7 linked regions of the Homo sapiens genome follow. The protein of the gene in region 5 interacts with the protein of the main gene of each other region in a biochemical or structural test. Each region holds a gene or a part of one and is shown on either strand. Other genes may lie near its edges.

Region 1 (3,500 bases), on a different chromosome or scaffold from region 5:
ATAATTATACAATAAAAGTGAATCATTTTAAAGACATATCATTTACAATGTTATAAATAAGTATCAGAAAGCTCACAGCTGAAATGCTGTCAGAACATTTTCCAAGCACACATTTTGTAGCATTGAACCCCGCTTTTCATTGACAGAATAAAATGAGGCATACAGATATGATCGTTGGTTCCACTAGACTTGTCTAATTTTTTCCAATCTCATATTTTTTTTTTTCCAGATAGGTGAAAACTTGCTCAGTGTGCCTTCCACAGTTGCCACGGCAACTAGCCTATCACACACAGCTCACCTTTTCATTCACTCCGTCGCTATTGTCTTTAGAAGCCTCTTCAGAATGCTGCTTTCCTAGAGCAACCATTGAGCAGTCATTATCTGTTGTCTTGGCATCTTGCTTTGAATTCTTTTTTTGTCCCATTTGAAGTTGGCTAGACTTGTAGGCCAAAGCCGGTATTGTGTTCACTAAAATTAACTGCAATGGTTTTTTGTTTTCCTTGTACTGACACTGAATATACCGTGAAAAGGCTGACCTATAGGTCTTGTTGAACAGTGTGTAGACTAGTGGGTTGACTGCTGAAGAGAGATAACCGATCCAAACAAACACATTGAGCAGGGCCCCAATGACATCCTCATTGCAGGACTCTTTGCAGATGACGGCCATGATGTTTGTGATGAAGAAAGGGCACCACATCACCACAAACAGGAAGAAGACGATGCCCAGCACCTTGCATGCCTTTTGCTCATTGCTGATGGACTGCATAGTCCTCCTGCCTGTGTAGGACCCTGGCTCCCTATGGATCGACCGCTGGAAGAGCTTTTCTGAAGACAAAGAACTCTGAGGGAGGAAGCTGAAAGAAGCTAATTTGGCCCGTGTGCCAAGATCACTTACACACAAAGTAGCTTCTTTCTGGAGTGACTTGATAGTTAGAAAGTAGGTGATCACCATGATGGTTAAGGGAATGAAAAATGACACAAAAGAGCCGATCAGGACAAAGTTATCATCGGCGAGTAAGCAACTCCCCTCCTTAAAGACCTTCGAATCGTCCTGTAGCCCAAAGACTGGTATTGGCATGGATATACCTGGAGTTGAACAGAAAATGAAACATGATTATTAAGGAATTAAGTATATGAAGGCAAGAGCATCATCACATAATATTGGCTATTGAAAAGATTTTATATCATCGTTTAAAAGCTTAACATACTTTGAGAATTTAAAATTCCTTTGGACTTACATATGTGTTTTGTAAGTATATATTATGTAGTTACTTGTATGTTATATTGCCCTATATAGCTAACCCTTATAAAGAAGTATAATAAATCTAGCTTTATTTTTTATGCCACATTTTTCTGATTATAATATTATACTTATTAATTGAAGAAACACACAGAGAGGCAAATAAACTAAAAATTGTCCAATAACGTCACCATCTAGAGATAGCCACAATTAACAACTGATGCTGTTCATTTTATTTATTTATATATTTATTTATTTTTGTCTATGAAAATCTAGAATATAGATTTGTTTCTTTTTTTGATGCTGTTCATTTTAGATACATTCACACACTTACCATGTGCACACATTTTAAAACAGAATTGAGGTTCTTTTTCACAAATAGTTCTGTATCTTTTTTAAAAAATCTAATAATATGTCACAAGCATGGCTTATATATAAAAATAACTATAAAATTTTAAATATAGTTTATTTTCTCTCTAGAAAATTTGGGAGGTACAAAAATGTAACAATGAATAAAGAAAAATAATATGTATTCTCACCAGTCAGGGGCAACCATAATTTACATTTGCATCATTTCTTCTTCCACTTACATGTACATATAAAAGCAAATGTGTATATGCAGTACTTTACATGCAGTACTTTGTACCTTATATGTTTTAGATCTTCCTATTCCATTTAACATTATAAATCATGATAATTGCACATAAAATATTTTTGAGAAATACAATTTTCTAATATTAATTTAAAATAACCAATTTTAATTCTTTTTAAAAAAGCTTTTATTATGGGACATTTTTAACATACACACAACTAACAAACCAAAAACCAAACCCAGTACAGTGAACTCGTCACCCAGCTTCAAAGATTATCAGCTCAAGCCCAATCTTGTTTCATCCATATGTCCTCTGGCTGCCATCCCTCCCATGTTATTATGAAGCAAATCCTAGACATCATGTCATTCAATCTGAAAATATTTATTACGTAGATCTAAAAGCCATGCACTCTTAGACAAACCTAATATTTTCACAATACCATTCTCACTCCTAAATAGAAGTTTAATATTTCCTTAATATTAAATGTAGAGTTAGTGTTCAAATTTCCAATTGTCCCATAAAGGTTGTTCTATGTTTTTAGTAGTAGAGCATTCATAAGGATGGATTGCAAAAAACAAGACAGCCATAGACTTTTTATTGACAAATATAAAAAGTAGGTATAGGATGAGATAATACAGGGGAACATGGGCCTATATGGTTCATTGCTCCATCACCCAGATTTGGGGGATCTGTAAGGCTCCCTCAGGTACAGGGATTAGGCAGAGGAGGAAGCAGAAGTGAATAAAGGCAACCCCTGGCCTCTAATCATGCTATGTGCCCCACTTGATGATAGGACCTTTTTAAAGGAAGATTCAACTGGCCATGTTGTGCAGTTTCACCACCCAGCCCCCACCATGGACAACCTCTCTGCTCCTGGGGAAATAGGTGTATCTTTCTCTACTGGCCTGGGATGGTTGGTCCAAGGCAATCATGAGATGGCTTATTCTCTCTGCCATAAAGGTAGAATCAGGATGATAAAAAAGAGAGGAAACATGAATCAAGTACTCTGTATAACTTAGTTTAAGATTGTTTCTTTCATGAAATGGTAGATATTGCAGGGACAGCCTGGGAGAAAAAGTCAGAAAAATAGTTCCCTTCTAACTCCTGCCCATATTATCAGCACACTCAGAATTGTAGAACAAAGAGTGTTGTGGTTACTGCTTCTGACCGTCTTTAGAGTCTAATACATGGTCTCACACCAGCCAAGAACACCGGTTTATTCCAGAATTGGGGGCCACTGCCTCACTCTTGCCATCCATCTGGAAAAAGGTTTTTGGAGAATCTCTAATCTAACTTCTGCATACTCAGAACAGAGTTCCGCTTCATCCAAGCACAGGCATGACTGTCCTAACCTCATGTCACCTCACATTGGCCATCGTGGCCAGGAAAGAACGCTGAGTTGATGTAATATTCAACACAAATCTTTCTTAGTGACATTTGCCATTATCTTCAAAGACTTAATTAACAATATTTGTCACTTGCCTATGCAAGCCCATCCAGGATTCTTGGAAGGTGGAGATAAATGACATCAGAGCTGTTCATAAGGACACTTATTGTGGCTAATGACTCTTCATTTCCTCCATCCCTCTCTGTTCCTGGCCCATTGTTTGCAACATTCAAGAAGAGATTGATGAGCTGTGCCTCCAAGGAGAACATCCTCTGAGACC
Region 2 (3,500 bases), on a different chromosome or scaffold from region 5:
TTTCTCTTTTCTCAATACTCAGGCAGCCTAAGTGAGGCTGCCCCAATTAATAGCATTGTCAGGAGCTTGGATAACAGCCCACTGGTGATTCGAGCCACAGATGCTGACAGCAACCGGAATGCTCTGCTTGTGTATCAGATTGTGGAGTCAACAGCAAAAAAGTTTTTCACGGTGGACTCCAGTACAGGTGCAATCAGAACAATTGCCAACCTGGACCATGAAACCATTGCCCATTTCCATTTTCATGTGCATGTGAGAGACAGTGGTAGCCCCCAACTGACTGCAGAGAGTCCCGTTGAAGTCAACATTGAGGTGACAGATGTGAATGATAACCCACCTGTTTTTACTCAGGCTGTGTTTGAGACTATCTTACTTCTACCTACCTATGTTGGAGTGGAGGTTCTGAAAGTTAGTGCCACAGATCCTGACTCTGAGGTACCCCCTGAACTGACATACAGCCTAATGGAAGGCAGTTTGGATCATTTTTTAATTGACTCAAACAGTGGAGTACTTACCATAAAAAACAACAACCTCTCCAAGGATCACTACATGCTGATAGTTAAGGTGTCTGATGGAAAGTTCTACAGTACCTCCATGGTCACCATCATGGTTAAAGAAGCCATGGACAGCGGCCTCCACTTTACACAAAGCTTCTATTCCACCTCAATCTCAGAGAACAACACTAACATAACCAAAGTTGCTATTGTCAATGCAGTTGGAAATCGCCTTAATGAGCCCTTAAAATACAGCATCTTAAACCCAGGAAATAAGTTCAAGATAAAATCTACCTCAGGGGTCATTCAGACGACTGGAGTCCCCTTTGACCGTGAAGAACAAGAGTTATATGAGCTGGTGGTAGAAGCCAGCCGTGAGCTGGACCATCTGCGTGTGGCCAGAGTGGTGGTCAGGGTTAACATTGAAGACATAAATGACAATTCTCCAGTCTTTGTGGGCCTCCCATACTATGCTGCTGTTCAAGTGGATGCGGAACCCGGGACTCTGATTTATCAGGTGACAGCCATTGACAAAGATAAAGGTCCAAATGGAGAAGTGACCTATGTCCTGCAGGATGACTATGGCCACTTTGAAATTAACCCTAATTCAGGGAATGTTATTTTAAAGGAAGCATTCAACTCTGACTTGTCCAACATTGAGTATGGAGTCACCATCCTAGCCAAGGATGGCGGAAAACCTTCTTTGTCTACATCTGTGGAGCTTCCCATCACTATTGTCAACAAAGCAATGCCTGTGTTTGATAAGCCCTTTTATACAGCATCTGTCAATGAAGACATCAGAATGAACACACCCATCCTAAGCATCAATGCCACCAGTCCAGAAGGCCAAGGCATCATATATATCATTATCGATGGGGACCCTTTTAAACAGTTTAACATTGACTTTGACACTGGGGTCCTGAAAGTTGTTAGCCCTTTGGATTATGAAGTTACATCTGCTTACAAGCTGACAATAAGAGCCAGCGACGCCCTTACTGGTGCTAGGGCTGAAGTCACTGTTGACTTGCTAGTTAATGATGTAAATGACAACCCCCCTATTTTCGATCAGCCTACATACAATACAACACTATCAGAAGCATCTCTTATTGGGACACCTGTTTTACAAGTTGTCTCTATTGATGCAGACTCAGAAAACAATAAAATGGTACATTATCAGATTGTCCAGGATACCTACAATAGCACAGATTATTTTCACATAGATAGCTCAAGTGGCTTAATCCTGACAGCACGAATGCTGGACCATGAGTTAGTACAACACTGCACTTTGAAAGTCAGATCAATAGATAGTGGCTTCCCATCACTGAGCAGTGAGGTTCTCGTTCATATCTACATCTCTGATGTAAATGACAACCCTCCAGTTTTTAATCAGCTCATTTATGAGTCATATGTGAGTGAATTAGCCCCCCGGGGCCATTTTGTAACCTGTGTACAAGCCTCTGATGCAGACAGCTCTGATTTTGACCGGTTGGAATATAGCATTTTATCTGGGAATGACCGGACGAGCTTTCTGATGGACAGCAAGAGTGGAGTTATCACATTGTCCAACCATCGGAAGCAGCGGATGGAGCCTCTGTACAGTCTCAATGTGTCTGTCTCTGATGGGTTGTTCACCAGCACTGCACAGGTGCATATTAGGGTACTTGGGGCTAACTTGTACAGCCCTGCCTTTTCACAAAGCACATACGTAGCTGAGGTGAGAGAGAACGTGGCTGCAGGAACAAAGGTAATTCATGTTCGAGCCACAGATGGTGATCCAGGGACTTATGGGCAGATCAGCTATGCCATCATCAATGACTTTGCCAAGGATCGATTCCTCATAGACAGCAATGGGCAGGTCATCACCACAGAAAGGCTAGACCGGGAAAACCCTCTAGAAGGGGATGTTAGTATTTTTGTGAGGGCCCTTGATGGTGGAGGGAGAACAACTTTCTGCACTGTGAGAGTGATTGTTGTGGATGAAAATGACAATGCTCCCCAGTTCATGACAGTGGAATATAGAGCCAGTGTCAGGGCAGATGTTGGAAGGGGCCACTTGGTCACTCAAGTTCAAGCCATAGATCCCGATGATGGAGCAAATTCAAGGATTACTTATTCCCTCTATAGCGAGGCCTCTGTTTCAGTGGCCGACCTCCTGGAAATCGATCCTGACAATGGCTGGATGGTCACAAAGGGTAATTTTAACCAGCTGAAAAATACAGTGCTTTCGTTCTTTGTCAAAGCAGTAGATGGGGGCATCCCAGTAAAGCACTCCCTCATTCCTGTCTATATCCACGTCTTGCCCCCTGAAACGTTCTTGCCATCATTCACCCAGTCTCAGTATTCCTTTACCATTGCAGAAGATACAGCCATTGGGAGTACAGTGGACACCCTGAGGATTTTGCCCAGTCAGAATGTCTGGTTCAGCACAGTTAATGGGGAACGGCCAGAAAATAACAAAGGGGGCATATTCGTCATAGAACAGGAAACAGGCACTATTAAGCTTGACAAACGCCTTGACCGTGAAACCAGCCCAGCTTTCCACTTTAAAGTAGCAGCCACTATACCCCTGGACAAAGTAGACATTGTGTTTACTGTGGATGTAGATATCAAGGTATTGGATTTGAATGACAACAAGCCAGTCTTTGAAACTTCAAGCTATGACACCATTATAATGGAAGGGATGCCTGTTGGCACCAAACTCACACAAGTGAGAGCTATTGATATGGACTGGGGAGCCAATGGACAAGTCACTTACTCCCTCCACTCGGATTCCCAGCCCGAAAAGGTAATGGAAGCATTCAATATTGACAGCAACACGGGCTGGATCAGTACCTTGAAGGACCTAGATCACGAGACAGACCCCACATTCACCTTCTCTGTGGTGGCCTCTGACCTTGGAGAGGCATTCTCTCTTTCCTCCACGGCCTTGGTCTCTGTCAGAGTGACAGATATAAATGACAATGCACCAGTCTTCGCGCAGGAAGTGTACCGAGGGAATGTGAAGGA
Region 3 (3,500 bases), on a different chromosome or scaffold from region 5:
GAGTGAGGAGCAGGAAACGCGGGGGATGCTTCGGATGCCAGGGTTGGGGCCAGAGCGCCCGCCACCCTCCCGCCCTCTAGGTGGGCTTGGACATGCCTGGGGCGCGGGTCTCTCCCAGCCCAGCTGGCCGGGCAGTGCAGGACGGCGCCGCGGCGGTGAGAGGGTTAAACGGAAGGGGGTGGAGGGGAGGACCCGGACCCCGCCTCTCTGCGGAGCATCCTTTGGGGATGGCTTTGCTTGGGGTTGGGACGCCGAGGGGAGCTGGAGGGGATGCTGGGCTCGGGCTGGCGGGAAGGGGTTAAGACCCTGTCCGGGGGTCTCCGCGCTCCTGCCCCCTGAGCCCCCTGGGAGATGCCAGGCGCGTCGGCTCTTCGCTCCCCCAGGCTCACACACGCTCGCGGAGCCCGCCTGAAGGACTGCCCCGCCGGCGGCGGAGCGCAGCATCCCCGCACCGGCCAATCAGGCGCGCGCAGGCCGGGAGGCGGTGAGATCATCTCTGGCCAATAGCAGGGCGCCGAGCGCAGGGATGCTGCATTCGCACCCCAGCACCCCCAACTCTAGGGAACTGGGGGCTCCCAGGTCGAGGTGAGATCAAGGCACAGGGACCCTAGGATTCCTCACCCTCAGGTGTGTGGGAGGACCAAGTTGGTCCCCCCAAACTCTCCGTGACCAGTGATTAAGCTGGAAAAGGGGAGCCCAGTCTCCCAGCCCCTTTAACGGATGAGGCTGCCCAGGCCCAGAGAGGGGAAGTGACTGGCTCAAGGTCACACAGTGGCAGCCTTGGGGCGGTTCTTCAACATCCAGCCTCCTCCCTCCTTTGCCCACGTCCCTCTAGCTCCAGCTGTGGAACTGGGGGAAGGTCTCAATCGCATGCCCTTTGTCAAGGAGGACGCCAGAAGGCTGAGGTCTTGGTTCCCTTTTTCCCTGTGACGCCCACTCTCCCCTTTCCAGGGTTTGGTGTGATATGAGGAAAGAGGACTAGCCTGGTGTGAGCACCGCAGAGTGAGAGGGAGAGAGACCAGGGACCCCCAGAAGTAGGGGACCCCTTGGAGAAGTGTAGGTGTCTGAGAAGGCCCAGATCCTAGCCCAGCCCTGGGCCTCTCTGCCCTTCGGGGGCATCGGTTTCTACCACGGCCGGAGGATGTGCAGAATTCCCACTCCCAGGCCCCGCCTTTCTCCTGAGCACCTGTGCAAACCGCCCACTCCCACCATCTGTCCCCAGAGCCCTGCAGGCTCCTCAAGGTCCAAATTTTCATGGGTCCACCACCAAGCTGCTCCTGCCCCAGCCTTGCCCACTCAGAGCATGTCCCAATCATCCTTCTAGGATCTCGGCCAGGAGTCCTCTCTGACCCCTCCGCCCTGCTCCCCCACATGAATCAATGGCCATCTAAACTCCCTTTCCCCCACTCCTTCTGCCCACGCCTTATCTGCCCTGCCACTGCCTGGAAAACCCTAGGCTGCTCTCCATAAGTGGACTAAACCTGCCCCAACACTTCCAAACCCCTCCATGGCTCTGCTGTGGCCTCCAGATAAACCCCAGCTCCCTGAGGCAGCCGTGCCACACCTGCCCCTGCCCCCACAGCCCCTTGGAAGCTTCTTATTCATCTCCCCTCCCTCCCCTTGGCTCTGCCCGTAGGACCCTGACTTTGCCGCTCTCTCCCCAGAAGCTCTTCCCTGTCCACCTGTCCACCTGCCCTCTCCACCCTGGTGCTTTTGCTTGGCTCACCCAGTCCTTCAGACCTCAGCAGAAACACCACCTTTTCAGGGAAGTGATTCCTGACTCTGCCCCCTGACTAGTTTGGTGGTGCACCATCTCTGTGCATCTCGGGACATTCAGGAAACCTGGAATTGATTGTCAGTGTCTGCAAGGCCTCCCCCAGGGCAGAGGCCACCTTGGGTCCTCAGCCCTGGCACAGGACCAGGATAGGGACCTAGTCAATGTTGAATGGAATCAGAGATTCTAGATATCTCTGACACTGGGAATCATGGTGTCTTGGGAGCAATGCAGACTAGGCTAAACCCAGGCAGTATGGGAGCAGAGGGGTGAGGGATGTAGCCACAGAATTAGGAGGCGAGATCTGTGGATAGTCTGAGGAGGCAGGGAGTGGACTGGAGGACCTTCGGACTCTCAGGAGCGAGGGGCCCCAGGGAGAGACTCACCTGGGATGAAGGCCCTTTACTGCCCTCCCTCATCTGTCCTGCCTTCTGGCCAGCGCTGGGGTCTGTCTGTCTTGGAGTAGCCATCTTTGGGGCCTGGAGGTGGGGGAAGGAGAGGAAGAACCATCCCATGTCCTCGCAGTGATGAGGATGTCCATGTGCTAGTAGTACTCTGGAGTGCTGTCTCTTTTCATCTTCGCAGTGAGGTGAGGCAGGTTCTGTCACTGTACCCATTTTAATGAGGAAGAAATTGAGGCCCAGAGAGCTCACAAGGCACAGCCAGGATTGGGCTGGGCTCTGGTGGGCGTACACCTGGCATTAAGGGCTTCCTTTCCTCTTCCCTTAGGGCCCCTGGGATCCATCAGCCTCCAACTTCAGGCCACAGTAATCAAGAAACCAGGAGTTTCTGGGCCAGGTGGGAGGGTGGAGTACTGGACATTATCTCCCTCAGTGGCCTTGGGCTTCCCTGCTGGGCCATGGTCTCCCCATCTGGGTGAGGATTGCTGAGGATTTCAAGGGAGAAATGGCCTTGGAAATTGTAAGGGGCAATGCAGATGTCTGTTTGGGGTCCCCGTGTCCCTGTTTATAGTCCCTTCCCCACCCTTGCATTGTAGAATGCACCATCCCAGAACGTATCCTTGTCCAACCAGTTCTGTGGTTTTGTTCATAGCTTTTCCTGCAGTTACCTGCTGCCTTACCTCCAAGATTCACCTGTAGAAATCCCCCTCCAACACTTCAAGAACAGTTTGGTGCCCTTGGTATATAATGAGTGTTTTCTTACTGCCATCTCCTCCAGGAAGGCTTCCGAGACCCCTCTGTCGTGCCCAGGCTTAATCCCGCTTGTAAAAGCCACCCGGCTCTTTGCCGCTGTCCAGCGCTGTGGTGCTGACCGCACTCTACTCAGAGGCTCCTGTTGCTTTTGCCTCTCCTCAGACTAGGCACTGCCTTGAGGGCCGGGCTTGGTTTATATATCACTGCATCCACCCCTGGCATATAGCACAGGGCCTGGAATGCAGCTGGCATTGTTTTGTGGAAGGAATTGAGATTTCTTTACTCTTTCTGGGACCCATGGGAAAGGGTCTGGCACCTGTGCCTTAGTGTTCCCAGAGTCCCAGGATAGGAGGAGTTCATCCATGGTAGAATGAAGTTGGGAGGGAAAGAAGAAGGAGACTTTAAGTTGGATGCCAACTCTTGCTGTTTTCTACCCAGTTCTCCAAGGAGAAGTACATCCTGGACTCATCGCCAGAGAAACTCCACAAGGAATTGGAGGAGGAGCTCAAACTCAGCAGCACGGATCTCCGCAGCCATGCCTGGTACCATGGCCGCATCCCCCGAGAGGTGAG
Region 4 (3,500 bases), on a different chromosome or scaffold from region 5:
ACATAACCTTGTTTTGAAAAGAAATGATGAGTCTGACCAACATGGTGAAACCCTGTCTCTATTAAAAATACAAAAATTAGCTGGGCATGGTGGCGGTCACCTGTAATCCCAGCTACTCGGGAGGCTGAGGTAGGAGAATGGCTTGAACCCAGGAGGCAGAGGTTGGAGTCAACCGAGATCATGCTACTGCATTCCAGTCTGGGGGACAGAGTGAGACTCCATCTCAAAAAAAAAAAAAAAAAAAAAAGGCAGAATGAGACCCAGTGTCTTTCTGCTGTCTAACTCTGCTAGAGGGAGCAACACTGTGAGGGCCAGAGAAAGAGCTTGATCCAGGTGGACCATCTCACCATGGTCGGGCCCCTTTAGGGCCAGCCGGGTCTGATGATGGGGAAGGATCTCAAGCTTGACCTGGTCAGTGGTGTTGGCCAGGAACTGGGTTGCTTCTGCAAGTGTACAGTACTCCATGCTGGTTCCATCGATGGAGAGGATGTGATCTCCCACATGCAATGCGCCACATCTACGGAAAGGAGAAATACTCGGTAAGAGGCAGTGCCTTCCTCTTTGGAATCTGACTTTCATGTCCTTCATAGTTAAAATTTCACAGTTTTTCATTTACTTAAAATAAAAGAAAAGAAAAGTTTGAGTGTTATAGGAAACACCATCTGCCAAATTTTAAGTACCTTGAATATGAACAAGGAAGTAAAACCTTGTGGAAAATAGAGAAAAATTCAACGAAATGTTTTCTCTTGTCTTTCTTTAAAAAAAAAATCTTATTTTGGAGTGCTTGTGTGGAAAGTTGAGGGAAAGCGAGCAAGAGGAAAGGGAAAAACAGGAAAATGTTTCCCCTGGACTTTTGTCTGTGTTTTTTTGTTCTAGGCTTTTCTATCTATAAACATGAGTGGGTAAATCTTCAGAATCTCAAACATGACTCTCAGAATTGGAATAGGGTCTATTTTATGTGTAAAGAAGAATAACTTGGGGAGATTTCAGTAATACTTCCTTGGAATCCTCACACAAACTCCAAGATCACCAGTTCTTTATTATTATGTTATTCTGGAGTTGAACATGTATTAGTATAAAAGCTCTTGATAATGGTAGAAATTATGCAGGAGTCAAGTGAGTAATAAAACCAGGCCTGCATGGTGAGTCAAGGGGAAAGATGGGGGCAGGGAAGGGGCTAGCTGCTACATCTTGCTGAACTCAAGAGCTGGCTACTGGATGAGTTAAGAAAAGCTAGCGCAGTCGTCAGCATCCCCACATACCAGTCAAGTGAACAGCTCCTTAAACTGGTTACCCCCTGTGGAATGGGAAAAAACAGAGGGAGAAAATTAAAGCATCCTGTGCCATTGAACTGCACAACACCCCTGGATCAATGGCTGTCACTGATAAGGACTGAATGTTGGGTAAGACCACAATGGAGATGTAGACTGACCACTACGGGGGGTTGCTGCAGTTCACTGCACCATGGCTGGAGGTGGAAAGGCAGGTTGAGGGGCACGTGGAGAAGAGGGCTGGAAACATACAGGGGAGACTGGTCATTCAGGTGCAGTATATCTATAAATTCCCAGTGTGAATAGTCTACGTCTCAAGACAAAAGCATTTCAAGTCATATCTTCCAACTAAAAACATAATTCCACATTTTTTGCACTTGGAGTGCTTTAGCTATGGGAGATGAGGTTTTTCTTACCAGGAGCTGTAAAATAATTAATTAGATGGAAAGGTAGTCTTTTTTTATCTTCCCCTTTTACCTTACGAGTATAAAATATTAATTAGAAACATGAAATTTCATTTTTATTGTGGCATTGAAGCGAATGATGTTTTAAGACACCCTCGAAGGTTGTAAAATCCTAAGATTAACATGCTATGAGAGTATAGGACTTTTTAAAAGTATTGTAAAAAATATTTTAAAAAGTATTGTTTTATTTATTTAAGAAACAAAGAAATCAGATTTTATGGTAGCAGGATTTAATTGTCAACAATTCAGGAAAACCCATCACTGCTCTGCATGGGGTTTAAGAAAGATCTACTCAGCTACCCTACATTAAGAACAGGCTAGTGCCCTAGGACACAGTAAGAAAACTTGCTTAGTTGCTTGATTTTTTTTTCTATTGCTAAAGGCCACACCAAACATCTGGATGACGTGAAGTGACATCATGGGGTGGCTGACACATAGGTGAATTTTTAAGCCCTGTAACAGTAACTTGCTTCTGTGTGTGAAACCTGTATAAACTGGCAAGAGAACTGTGTGTGTGTGTGTGTGTATGTGTATATGCATGTGTATATGTGTATTACAAGTGTGTGTACATATGTATGTATATATATTTAAAATTGCACACATGCAATTTTGTAAAGGGGCACTTTCTTTCTTTCTTTCTTTCTTTTTTTTTTTTTGAGATGGAGTTTCACTCTTGTTGCCCAGGCTGGAGTGCAATGGTTCAGCTCACTGCAACCTCTGCCTCGCGAGTTTAAGTGATTCTCATGCCTCAGCCTCCCGAGTAGCTGGGATTACAGGCACCTGCCACCATGACTGGCTAATTTCTTGTATTTTTAGTAGAGATGGGGTTTCACCATGTTGGCCAAGCTGGTCTCGAACTCCTGACCTCAGGTGATTCACCCGCCTCGGCCTCCCAAAGTGTTGGGATTACAGGCGTGAGCCACTGCGCCTGGCGGAAAAGTAGGCACTTTCTACAATACTTACCTGTCTGCAATACTTGCAGATTTGATTTTGTCTATGACAATGACTTGTTTGTTACAGCACATCGAGGTAGTTAGGGCAACCCCAAGGCTGGCACCAGGAGTTTTGGCAACTTCGACTAGTAGTGGCCCGGATGCTGTTGCCACAGAGTCTGTCAAAGAACAAATTTTAGAAAACAAAACAAATAAAACAAATAAGCAAAGAGACAAAAGAAAGAGATGAAGAATATTCAGTTTGGTGTTAGCCTGTTAATTTTATCACTGAAACTTAGATTTCCCTCCATATAATATCCCCACAGCCAATAATAAATTCATAGGGCACCTCTTAACACACCTGTTCCATTCAGCTTGTATTGTGTTAATGTATGTGTAATGTTCATCTCTTCAATGAGATTTTAAGCTTCATGTCACTTGGGATAATATCTTATGTATCTTTATCCCCTCCACAGTGCTTGGCACAATGCCGAGCATATACTAGGTCTCTCAGTAAAGGTTTTTTAAATTAATTACTTAATTCAATAAATATCTTAGCACCTACCAGGAATAAATAGACGGATGGATGAATGAATGGATGAAAGGATGGATATAAAAAAGAAAGGAAGGAAAGAAGAAAGAAAGGAAGGGAGGAAGGGAGGAAGAAAGAAAAGAAGGATGGATGGGTGGATAAATAAAAGAATGACAAGAGGGATGGGAGGATGAATGGATGGGTAGATAGATAATCAGAAGAATGGATGGATGGATGATGTCTCTAGCCAAGTAGTAGGAATGTTACACTAAGTTGAATTTGTAAAGCTTAACTTCATATA
Region 5 (3,403 bases):
TGGTTACAGTCTTGGTGATGTGGCTGCGTCTGTGGGAGGATGTGGATGGATGATGACAGTGATGAACTGGCCAGGCCTGAGGCAACCCTCCCACTTAGATTTGGCTTTTAAAGTCTTCAAGCTCATTGAGGGCAGCTCATGAGACCTCTTGACTCTGGGTCCACTGCTCCTTTATATACACATATATGTGTATATATATGTGTGTGTGTGTGTATATCTATATATGTGTGTATATATATGTATCTATATATATATCTGTGTGTGTGTAACTGAGTTCAGTGTCTTGTCATGTTTTCTCCATGGGGGTTGTACAACTTAAGTTTGCCCAGTCCCTAGTTCAGTGAGTGCACAGCTGAAGCTCTGGGAGGGAACAGGCAAGATCTGGGTCTGGGGGTGAGAGGGCTCCCTCTGGTTCCCACTATCCAATCCTAACCAGTCTTACAGGGAACAAACACCGTACCTTTTATCACAGCGATTCCAAGAAACACACACACCACCACTGAAGGATATTTAACTTTTCTTAAAAAAAAAATCTTAACCATGAAAGGAAGAAAATAAAAGAGTATACATTATCTTAACAGCAGAACAGTCATTTCCATATCTATATTTTATATATTATATATATATTTATATATATATATATGTATATATACACCTAGCACAGTGTGTATATTCTATTCATCAGGGAGAGTTGGGTGAGGACGTGGTGATGGGGCCAATGCTGCGGTGGCCCCTTGGATGGTCCTGGGTGAATTCAGGGACTCGGCATTCAGACCCCTGTCCCCACCTCCTGGGGCCCAGTCCTCAGCTCCGTACCTGCTTCACTGGTTTTCTACAGGGACAGGGTGGGGAAGAGGGGGACATAGGTGGGGTAAGAAACCCCCATGATCCCCATCTTGTGAAGATGAGAAGTCCAGGGAGGGAGGGAGTAGCTTGGCAGCAAGCTGTGGAGGGCAGGCTCTGGAGCCAGGTGGGATGGGGAGCCAGAAGACCTTCCCACTCACAGGGACAGGAACACTCAGGCCTGGCTCCCGCTTTAGGCTCGATCCTGGAACTGGGTTGTTAACTAAGGAGATACAAGTGAAACCCCTCTTCCCTAAGCAGCTCCTTCCATAACTGCCTCCAGCACTTCAGGAACAGGAACAAAAAAGGTCAAAGTTATTTACAATAGCAAAGATGCACATACGATACATACATATTTATAGGAAACCAAAGTGACAAAGAGGGGAGGGGAGGCACCCACCTCTGCCTGGGGTCTTATGGAGAAAGAGGGGAGGAAGAAAGTGCATTTACACAGAAGCCTCCTCCTTTCACTTGCATGTCTGAGGGCAGCGCACATACAGGCGTGCGCGTGTACACACATATGTGGGGTGAGGGCAGACCATGGTGAGTGGGGGCCTTTCGGATGCAGTCAGCATGCTTAGGAGACATGAGGCCTTGGAGGGTTGGGCTAAGGGAGGGAAAAGACACTGAAACCTGACTCCGACTTGAGCAGACCAAGCAACATGCGGGTCTCCCCCCGGGCCTTGGCTGGATCCTAGTTTCCCTAACTGCCTCCTCCACAGGGAGGAGTGTTGGGATCCCCCCTACCCTGTGCCCCGGTCTCAGGCCAGTCCCTGAAGGAGGAGTGGGGACGCAGAGGATTTGGTGGTTTGTACGGTTATGGTCCTGGTGACGCGGCTGCGTCTGCTGTGCTGTCTTCCAGGGGGGCGTCAGAGCCTGTGGGAGGAGGATGAAGGTGAGGAACTGGCCAGCCTGAGGTGACCGCTTCCACATGTTTTGTCTAGAAAGTTCAGGCTCACGAGAACAGATCCTTCATCACCTTCCTTCTCCTCCAGAAACCCCAGTTTCTCGTAGGGCTTGAAAAGGGCTGTCTACTGAACTCCACTTTCATCAGCGCCTAAAGCCCTTAGGTCAGGTAGGTATGTGCCTTGTCTTCCTGAGTTATGACATAGCTGTGTCCCTGGCCCACCCAGTGTGGTTCTGAATCATTTAATCAGCACGAGTCTTAGGCCGACACCATGGTGTGCACCTGCAATCCCAGCTGCTTTGGAGGCTGAGGTGGGTGGATCACTTCGGCCCAGGAGTTTGAGACCAGCCTGGGCAACATAGCCAGGCCAGCCCTTGTCTCAAATAAATAGAAAAAAAAAAAAAAAAAATATATATATATATATATATATATATATAAAATTAAAAAAAGAACAAGTCTTAGAGGTGAGAACAGGCTCCTCCTGGTTTGTTACCTCCATAGCACAAGGAAAAAGAGGGCTCAGTGCTAAGCTCCCCATTTTGCCAGGGAGCTTCTGTGGGACTTCCCTAAAAAGATCCCTCTCTGAAGCTGAGAGAATGAACTCGTTTCACTCAAGGGGAAACCACTCTCAGAACCACCATCTCTCACTGCTTAGTGATGTGTCCTCACGAGTTGGCAGACTTCTCCCCCAATGGTAGGAACCGAGAGGGACCTGGCTTCACTCACCATCCTCAGGGCAGGGCCCCAGTTCATGGCTGTTCCTGGAGTCAGAAGCTAGGGGCTCCTTAGCGGGAGGTGAGAGGGAGCCATCTGTCCATCTAGCTGCTTCTGTGTGGAAACTGCCCACAGGCGTGGTGCCACCAGATGACTCTCCCCCAAGGGACTTGAGCAGCTCTCTGTGGGCCAGCTCCATATCCTGGAAGAGTCGGCGGGGGAATGTCTGCTCGAGTCCTTCTATTCCTAAGGCCCCTGGGGAAGGGGTCTGTGCTGGGCCTTGGGGAGGAGGGTGTGATTTAAGGGTGGCTGGGCGGGCTGGGGGAAGATCCCTGGGCCAGGACAGGATCTAGGGCTCCCGCGAAGACACACATCTCACTCATGGGGAATGGTTTTGGGGTGATGGACTGAAGGCCTGCAGGGACCCAAGCCCTGCTTCCCTCACCTTGAGCCTGTTGAGCTTGAGAGTGAGCTGCTCAATGGTATGGAAGATCATGCCCACGTCCCTGAGGGCCAGGCTTGGAGGAGAGCGGCTGGGGCGTCTTGGATCATCGTTGCCTCCCTGCAGCTGAGGCTGAGGCTCTGTCTGCCCTGCAGGGAGGCTGTCAGGCTGAGGGGGGCTCATGGGTGCCTCTGAGTGGTCGGTGCTTGAGTCCGGGGGTCCTGATGGCATGCTGACATAAAAGCAGTTCCCTGTCCCCACAGTAAGAGAATGAGATCAGGAGGCAAACAGAGAAGTCGAAGCTATCCTCCCGTTCCTGTGGGATTCCCCAGCCACCTGACAGAGCAGGCCAGGCAGTCCTCTCCAGACAAACTCAGAGAACGTGGGCCTTGCTCACTGTCTGCCAGCCCCCTAAAAGCCCTGCTCCCGAGACCTTCTAGATGACACTTGCTCAGTCTGGCCCCAAGCTGGGGGAGATGCTGAGCGATGAACTCAAG
Region 6 (3,500 bases), on a different chromosome or scaffold from region 5:
CTGTTCAAGCTTTGACTGGTGTACTCCTCCTAAGAAGAGAGGGCTTGCACCAATTGAATGCTACAATAGGATATCTGGTGCATTATTCACTAATGACAAATTCCAGGTCAGCACAAATAAATTGACGTTTATGGATCTTGAGCTAAAATTGAAAGATAAGAACACCCTTTTTACAAGGATTTTAAATGGACAGGTATGATTTTTAAATATAAAGTTGTGAATATTTGCAAATGTTTTATTTTTAAGTAAAAGAAGACACTAGCAGTGTAGGTTTTTATTGATATTTTGCATCAAAAGACTATGATGTATAAATTTTTTTATGAGCAGTCAAGTGTTCACATTACTAAAAAATTTAAAGCTAATTTTTTAGTAATGACTAAACCTACCTAGTAAAGACTAGGTTTGGATAGAATTTACATATCTTCATTAGTTTTTTTTGTTTTTTTTTTTTTAAGACAGGAGTTTCACTCTGTTTCCCAGGCTGGATTGCAGTGGCTCAATCTCAGCTCACTGCAACCTCTGCCTCCCAGGTTCAAGCTATTCTCCCGCCTCAGCCTCCCAAATAACTGGGACTACAGGTGCGTGCCACCACGCCTGGCTAATTTTTGTATTTTTAGTAGAGATGGGGTTTCACCATGTTGGCCTGGCTGGTCTCGAACTCCTGACCTCAGGTGATCGACTTGCCTTGGTCTCCCAAAATGTTGGGATTACAGGCATGAGCCATCGCACCCAGCCAAGATCTTAATATCTAGCCCTTGACATAGTAGAAGCCACAGAAGCATCTTAATGAGAACATGTATGAACAATTGTATTTGCTTTAAGGGCTATATTTGTATATTAATAACCTAGTTGTGCAATTTTTAGCTAGTCTTGAGGGTAAAAATGGGGTAAAACTGTGAAGTACTTTGAGCTAAAAGGTGATTTGAGATTGATCAGTATTAAAATACATGTATTGATTAATACAACAAGAATGATTTCACTTTGAAATTTGTTACAAAGTTGAGTGAAACTAGTATACTAGTGTACTTGTATTCTGTGAACAGACCTCAGAGACTTTTGATACTACTCTTTCAGTAGTTTAATGTTGAATTGCCAAGAAATAGATGATTTTATTATCAATTTATTGCTGGGCAATAAATACAGTGCATAGTACATAGTATTTGTAGTCAGTCAGTCCTGTAAGATGTTGAAATTAATTTTGCTCTTATAAAGCTTGTGAATCATAGAAGATTAGGACACTTTTAAGAATTATACACCGAGAAAGACCTTATCAAAATGAGTTACTACTCCTTTATAATACACTTAGAATTCATTTATAATATGGTGTTAGTTATCCAACATTTATTGAGCAGTGGGTGTTTTCAAAAGCTATCCAGAATAAGTTAATTCTATTCCTTTGTTACACTGTACTTTTAAAATATATATTTTCTAATTTTGAAACATTCAAGCTGCGCATAATGGTTCACACCTGTAATCTTGGCTACTTGAGAGGCTGAGGCAGGAGGATGGCTTGAGGCCAGGAGTTCAAGACCAGCGTGTGCAATACAGTGAGACACCTTCTGTATTTAAAAAAAAAAAAAAAAGAAGGAAATGTTCAAATACACAGAAAAGTTGAAAGAATATTATAAAGTGAATATCTGCATACTTTTCCCCTAGGTTACCTGTCACCTTGACATGCCTTCTGAATTGTACTTTGACTGTTACTGAGTGTCTGGAATTAATGCATTTGGTAATTTGTTTGGTTGATAGTGAATCCATCCTGAGAGTTTTAGAAGGGTAGTTTAACATTTTGGTTGTCAGACTTTCTGGTTCCTAGTTACTAATTTAATCTCCATGTCAGCTGGCAAACTGACAACAATGATTTGCTGATTTGGGAAAGAGTTGGTACCTAGTTATAGGAGTAAGTGTGGCAGCAATTTCCCAGAAACTGTATACCATATTGGACCTGTGAGTCTTTACCATGTATATATATTTCCTTTTTCATTCATATAACTTTAAAAAAATCAAATTTATTAATAACTAAGATAGTATCCTTCTTGACAGCAAGCATCAAAAACTTAGGCTGAAATTATTTTTAATTTTGCCTTACTTTCCTTTGGAAATGGTATATTATGGTATAAGGTACGTAAGAAGGAATGGAGTTCTGTAACTTTACAGACTGTCCTCTGCGAAAGCATGTAATGGGGAGATTGTCTTACCTCCTCATTGCCCTAGAGGCAGGCATCAAACAAGTGTATAGCACCTTATGCTTGAATACAGATTTCTGTATTCTCTCCCAACAGGGTGAAGAATGGTTGGCAAAAACACATCTTCTTAAGTATTATTAGAAAACACTTCAGTTTTATGAGTTTATTTTTTGGATAGGCTCTATATATAAAAGAGAAAATTAAAAAGAAAAGTACATTTTGCATAGCAGTGTTTCTCAACCTTTTTTCGTTATCACCCTCATAAGGAGTCTTTCTTGGCATCTTTTTCTCAATTGTTTTCCCCAATGAAATTTTACTACTGCAGATTTACCATCTATCTGTTTGTATATTGTATTCACGTTTATAAAGTACTTGATACACAATGAGATTTTTATCGTCCCATTGAGAATGTGGTTTACAGTTAGAAGGCCTCCACTCATCCCTTTTGTGGAGCTAGCTAGTTCTCCTCCCAGGCAGTAAGGGTTCATCAGTTTTTAGTGTATCCTAGGAATTAAAGGCGGAAAGGAAGGTTTTATTGTTGATATTGACCAGGGATACCTTGGTTCTAAGAATAATATCAAATTTTTCTTCTTTGGTAATGCATTTGTTTGAAATATCCTAAATGTGTACAGAGGAAGGATCCAGCAGAATATTTAATTTTTTATTAGGTTTTCTGAATTGGAGTATATGAAAGGAAAAAAATAAAATGAATGACAAATGTTTATGGTTATATTTGTTTGCTAGTAGCTATATTTCATAAAACATTTTAAAATTCTACAGGAACAGCGAATGAAAATTGACAGAGAATTTGCTTTGTGGCTGAAGGACTGTCATGAGAAGTATGATAAACAAATAAAATTTACACTTTTTAAGGGAGTAATTACACGTCCTGATCTTCCTTCTAAAAAGCAAGGTCCCTGGGCAACATATGCAGCAATAGAATGGGATGGAAAGATATACAAAGCAGGACAGCTGGTAGGTTTAACTTATTGTCACTTTTTTCTTATAATTTTTAATTTAATTTAAAACACATATGCAGAATCACATGTATAGAAAATAAGCTATTTTTAAAAATTTCTTTTTTTCCCATTCTCACATTTCATGAAGAACATTTATTCAGACTCTTCACAGGCCTGTTTGACATCAGTGTCTTCCATCATCTCTAAGGAAATTTAACTTATTTTTAGATTCAATTTTTAGTAGAAGTTGAGACTAAATTAGATGTATTAAAATTTAACAACAGTAACAACAAATAATGCAAATATTGGCTCCTCAGGAGCTAGGTAAGAATGAAAAGGACAAACTGATTTTAAA
Region 7 (3,500 bases), on a different chromosome or scaffold from region 5:
TAGCCAAGGCTGAGGGTCTGGCCTTATGGGAGGAGAAATGCAGAGGGCTCTGCTGCTGCTAGTAATGGAAGTAATAGAAGCTTCGGGTGGGAAGAGGCAGGCACAAGCCCCTCTCCAGACTCAAAGCATGGTCAGGGTTAAGGCATCTTTATCTCCAGAGCGGTACCCAGAAGAATACTGAAAGGAGTCGGGATGTCAGAAACTATGTCCCGTTATAAATGGCAGTACAGAATATTGGTGCTCTAGAGACCAGAAGAGGGAGCAGTAGCTCCCCTGTGGGTCAAGGGCTGAGAAAAGGCTTCACTGAGGAGATAGAACTTGACATTGTTCAATCTGAAAATGGTTGAGCCAATCCGTGGGCCCTTGAATACTGAGAAACTGCTGAGAGATGTTGGGTAATCATTTCTAATACCTACCAGGTTGGGCTTATCAGGTAGTGTGAATTAGGATTATCTGGGACGCGTCCTGATATGTCCGTGTTAGTAGAGCAGGTAGCAAATAGATTGCTCTCCTCAGCTTAACTGAAATCTATGTAGTCTGCCCACCTCTACCAAAGTTGAGATTAGGGCAGCTCCCAAGAACTGAAAAAAAGTGCCACTCTACCCAACTCCTTGTGACTGCCCTTGTGGTCAGATCCGGCCTGGCAGTTAGTAGGGACTCTCTCGGATGAGAAAGATTGTGTTTCACTGCCCATGAGTTAGCATGGGAAGGAATTGTGTCACATCTTGTCCCACAGGTGGAGTTGTTTGAGTTTAAGGGAGAAGATCTGACGGAAGAGGAAGATGGCGGAATCATTCGCAGAATACAGACTCGCGGTGAAGGCTATGCTAAGCCCAATGAGGGTGCTATCGTGGAGGGTGAGACAGTACAGTCTGGGCTTTCAATTCTCATTCTGATATTTAGGCCTTGTGTGGCTTTGGGCAAGACACTTCCGTTCTCCGAGCCTATCTTCTTGTCCATAAAATGAGGGGTTGGACCATATTCTCTTCATATCACTCCAGATTTGAGAACACAGGAGAATCTTGGGATGATGGGGGTGATGCAGGGAGGCTGATGGCATCCTTCCTCAGTCACCTGCCCTCTTACAACTCTGGTACACTGCCTCTCTTTCATGCCAGTTGCACTGGAAGGGTACTACAAGGACAAGCTCTTTGACCAGCGGGAGCTCCGCTTTGAGATTGGCGAGGGGGAGAACCTGGATCTGCCTTATGGTCTGGAGAGGGCCATTCAGCGCATGGAGAAAGGAGAACATTCCATCGTGTACCTCAAGCCCAGGTGAGGGGTGGGCACTTCGTAGGGTAGGCAGGCAGGCAAACCAAGATCAAAGATATAAAATGAATTGTAGAACCAGCTGTTTGTATCCTTTTTAACTCTGGCCACACCAAACATACACCATTATGATATCCTCAGTGTACTTAGAAGTATGGCCCAATTGTCTACATCTCCTTGGATCTAAGCCCAGTCTTTTCAGTCATAGTTGCTACAGATTCTCTCCTCTGCCATCAAGATTTTCCTCTCCCATTAATTCATTTCAGTCATTACTGAAACAGCTACTACATGCCAGGCACTGCTGAAAATTCCTATAGGGCTTCAGAGACTAATAGAACATTGTTTCTGCCTTCTAATTCTAGCTCATTGTTTAGTGAGGTGCTATTTAAATTAGTAATCACACTGCTGCCTGGCTGTAAGTTATTAGAAGGGTATGAAGGATGCTGAGGGACCATCTGACAGTGTGAAGAGGCCAGGGAAGATTTGCCAAACATTTGAACCAAGTCTCAAGGGATGGGAAGGTACTTTCCAGGAAATGGACAGGAAGCCTTTTCAGCCTGGAGCAGGTTAAGTGTTGCCAAGATGATACATAGTGTTTTTCACCCCTCCAGCTATGCTTTTGGCAGTGTTGGGAAGGAAAAGTTCCAAATCCCACCAAATGCTGAGCTGAAATATGAATTACACCTCAAGAGTTTTGAAAAGGTAAGTTTGCTCAGGGTCTTCCCATCTAAAGTCAAGTTCCACCCTGTACGTGACTCTGGGGTAGCTGACAACTTTGTTTCTCTCCTGGGGTGTGGCAGGCCAAGGAGTCTTGGGAGATGAATTCAGAAGAGAAGCTGGAACAGAGCACCATAGTGAAAGAGCGGGGCACTGTGTACTTCAAGGTGAGCCAACAGTCATTGTCCTAAGGACACTCCCAGGAAGAGTTGCTCTGAGCCTCCCCTTCCCTTGGTGACTGAGATCATTTTCTGCCAAGAAGTGGACAGGTTGGCACCTGCCATCTTCACTTCATATATGTGAGCTTGCTGGCCTTGCCAGTGGGAAGGGTGGGAGCAGGAACCTCTTGTGGCCATGTGTCACTGATGTCTGCAGGGTATAAGAGCCTAGTACCACTGAAACTGTGCCAGGTGCCTGAGCCTCTCTCCCATTCCAGGAAGGTAAATACAAGCAAGCTTTACTACAGTATAAGAAGATCGTGTCTTGGCTGGAATATGAGTCTAGTTTTTCCAATGAGGAAGCACAGAAAGCACAGGCCCTTCGACTGGCCTCTCACCTCAACCTGGCCATGTGTCATCTGAAACTACAGGCCTTCTCTGCTGCCATTGAAAGCTGTAACAAGGTGAGGCCCCCTCAGAGGTCATGGAAGCAGCATTCACAGGCAGAGTTGGGTGAGCTGCCAGCATGTCTGAAACTTCCCCTTGGTGACTAGGGCAGGGATAGCAGGGTGGATCAGTGGGAGCTCTGAGGTTACAGACCAAAGGCACGGATGCAAGTATTCATAGCAAGAACCTTAGCTTTGGTGGGAAGCAGTTGGCAAGAAGGAGGAGGACACGGAATGGGAAGAATCACATAAAGAGTTTTCTTCCACCTTGGTTCTTAGCCTCTCCGCTTACCTACTTGCTTTATTCTAAAGTGAATGTTAATGTCTGAAGTCTTTATTTCATCCAAAGACCTGCTGTCTTCCCTCTCTGCCTGTTGGATTAAATGAGGTCCCTGGATTGTTCCATTTAATGCCTCAGGCCTTGTTCTTCCTGGGGTGCAGCCAGCCACTTGCATTCCTCCTCATCCTCCTGAGGGGTACCTTTGGAACCCAGTCTAGGCCAGATGAGCTACAAGCCCTGAGCTCCCACAATGTGGCTTCCTCTCTGCATTCTTTAGGCCCTAGAACTGGACAGCAACAACGAGAAGGGCCTCTTCCGCCGGGGAGAGGCCCACCTGGCCGTGAATGACTTTGAACTGGCACGGGCTGATTTCCAGAAGGTCCTGCAGCTCTACCCCAACAACAAAGCCGCCAAGACCCAGCTGGCTGTGTGCCAGCAGCGGATCCGAAGGCAGCTTGCCCGGGAGAAGAAGCTCTATGCCAATATGTTTGAGAGGCTGGCTGAGGAGGAGAACAAGGTGAGGATTGGGGTGGGGAACAGTTGGAATAGCATCCCTCCACTTAACCTGGCTACTGTGGGCTCTTTGTGCCTTTGGTTGTCTGTGCCAATCCCGGAAACCAGAAGTTGCCT

Evidence for each region.
Region 1: the proteins of ARHGEF11 (region 5) and HTR2A interact in a test that uses a peptide from one of them, tested with the Homo sapiens proteins (one large-scale study listed by IntAct).
Region 2: the proteins of ARHGEF11 (region 5) and FAT3 interact in a test that uses a peptide from one of them, tested with the Homo sapiens proteins (one large-scale study listed by IntAct).
Region 3: the proteins of ARHGEF11 (region 5) and SH2D3C interact in a test that uses a peptide from one of them, tested with the Homo sapiens proteins (one large-scale study listed by IntAct).
Region 4: the proteins of ARHGEF11 (region 5) and GRIP1 interact in a test that uses a peptide from one of them, tested with the Homo sapiens proteins (one large-scale study listed by IntAct).
Region 6: the proteins of ARHGEF11 (region 5) and SMCHD1 interact in a test that uses a peptide from one of them, tested with the Homo sapiens proteins (one large-scale study listed by IntAct).
Region 7: the proteins of ARHGEF11 (region 5) and FKBP4 interact in a test that uses a peptide from one of them, tested with the Homo sapiens proteins (one large-scale study listed by IntAct).

The regions. Positions count from the first base shown.
Region 1 is NC_000013.11:46,834,554-46,838,053, forward strand, and holds part of HTR2A (5-hydroxytryptamine receptor 2A), read right to left. Parts: intron 1,087-3,500; coding exon 284-1,086; 3' UTR 1-283. UniProt on the Homo sapiens protein: G-protein coupled receptor for 5-hydroxytryptamine (serotonin).
Region 2 is NC_000011.10:92,798,318-92,801,817, forward strand, and holds part of FAT3 (protocadherin Fat 3 isoform 1 precursor), read left to right. Parts: coding exon 1-3,500.
Region 3 is NC_000009.12:127,751,167-127,754,666, reverse strand, and holds part of SH2D3C (SH2 domain-containing protein 3C), read left to right. Parts: intron 1-3,366; coding exon 3,367-3,495; intron 3,496-3,500. UniProt on the Homo sapiens protein: Acts as an adapter protein that mediates cell signaling pathways involved in cellular functions such as cell adhesion and migration, tissue organization, and the regulation of the immune response.
Region 4 is NC_000012.12:66,462,577-66,466,076, forward strand, and holds part of GRIP1 (glutamate receptor-interacting protein 1), read right to left. Parts: intron 2,847-3,500; coding exon 2,699-2,846; intron 518-2,698; coding exon 348-517; intron 1-347. UniProt on the Homo sapiens protein: May play a role as a localized scaffold for the assembly of a multiprotein signaling complex and as mediator of the trafficking of its binding partners at specific subcellular location in neurons.
Region 5 is NC_000001.11:156,934,340-156,937,742, forward strand, and holds the end of ARHGEF11 (rho guanine nucleotide exchange factor 11), read right to left. Parts: intron 3,158-3,403; coding exon 2,910-3,157; intron 2,667-2,909; coding exon 2,477-2,666; intron 1,906-2,476; exon of another isoform or gene 1,792-1,905; intron 1,720-1,791; coding exon 1,661-1,719; 3' UTR 501-1,660; downstream 1-500. UniProt on the Homo sapiens protein: May play a role in the regulation of RhoA GTPase by guanine nucleotide-binding alpha-12 (GNA12) and alpha-13 (GNA13). Acts as guanine nucleotide exchange factor (GEF) for RhoA GTPase and may act as GTPase-activating protein (GAP) for GNA12 and GNA13.
Region 6 is NC_000018.10:2,700,726-2,704,225, forward strand, and holds part of SMCHD1 (structural maintenance of chromosomes flexible hinge domain-containing protein 1), read left to right. Parts: intron 1-9; coding exon 10-193; intron 194-2,966; coding exon 2,967-3,161; intron 3,162-3,500. UniProt on the Homo sapiens protein: Non-canonical member of the structural maintenance of chromosomes (SMC) protein family that plays a key role in epigenetic silencing by regulating chromatin architecture.
Region 7 is NC_000012.12:2,797,970-2,801,469, forward strand, and holds part of FKBP4 (peptidyl-prolyl cis-trans isomerase FKBP4), read left to right. Parts: intron 1-736; coding exon 737-857; intron 858-1,118; coding exon 1,119-1,275; intron 1,276-1,880; coding exon 1,881-1,971; intron 1,972-2,069; coding exon 2,070-2,153; intron 2,154-2,422; coding exon 2,423-2,608; intron 2,609-3,147; coding exon 3,148-3,387; intron 3,388-3,500. UniProt on the Homo sapiens protein: Immunophilin protein with PPIase and co-chaperone activities. Component of steroid receptors heterocomplexes through interaction with heat-shock protein 90 (HSP90).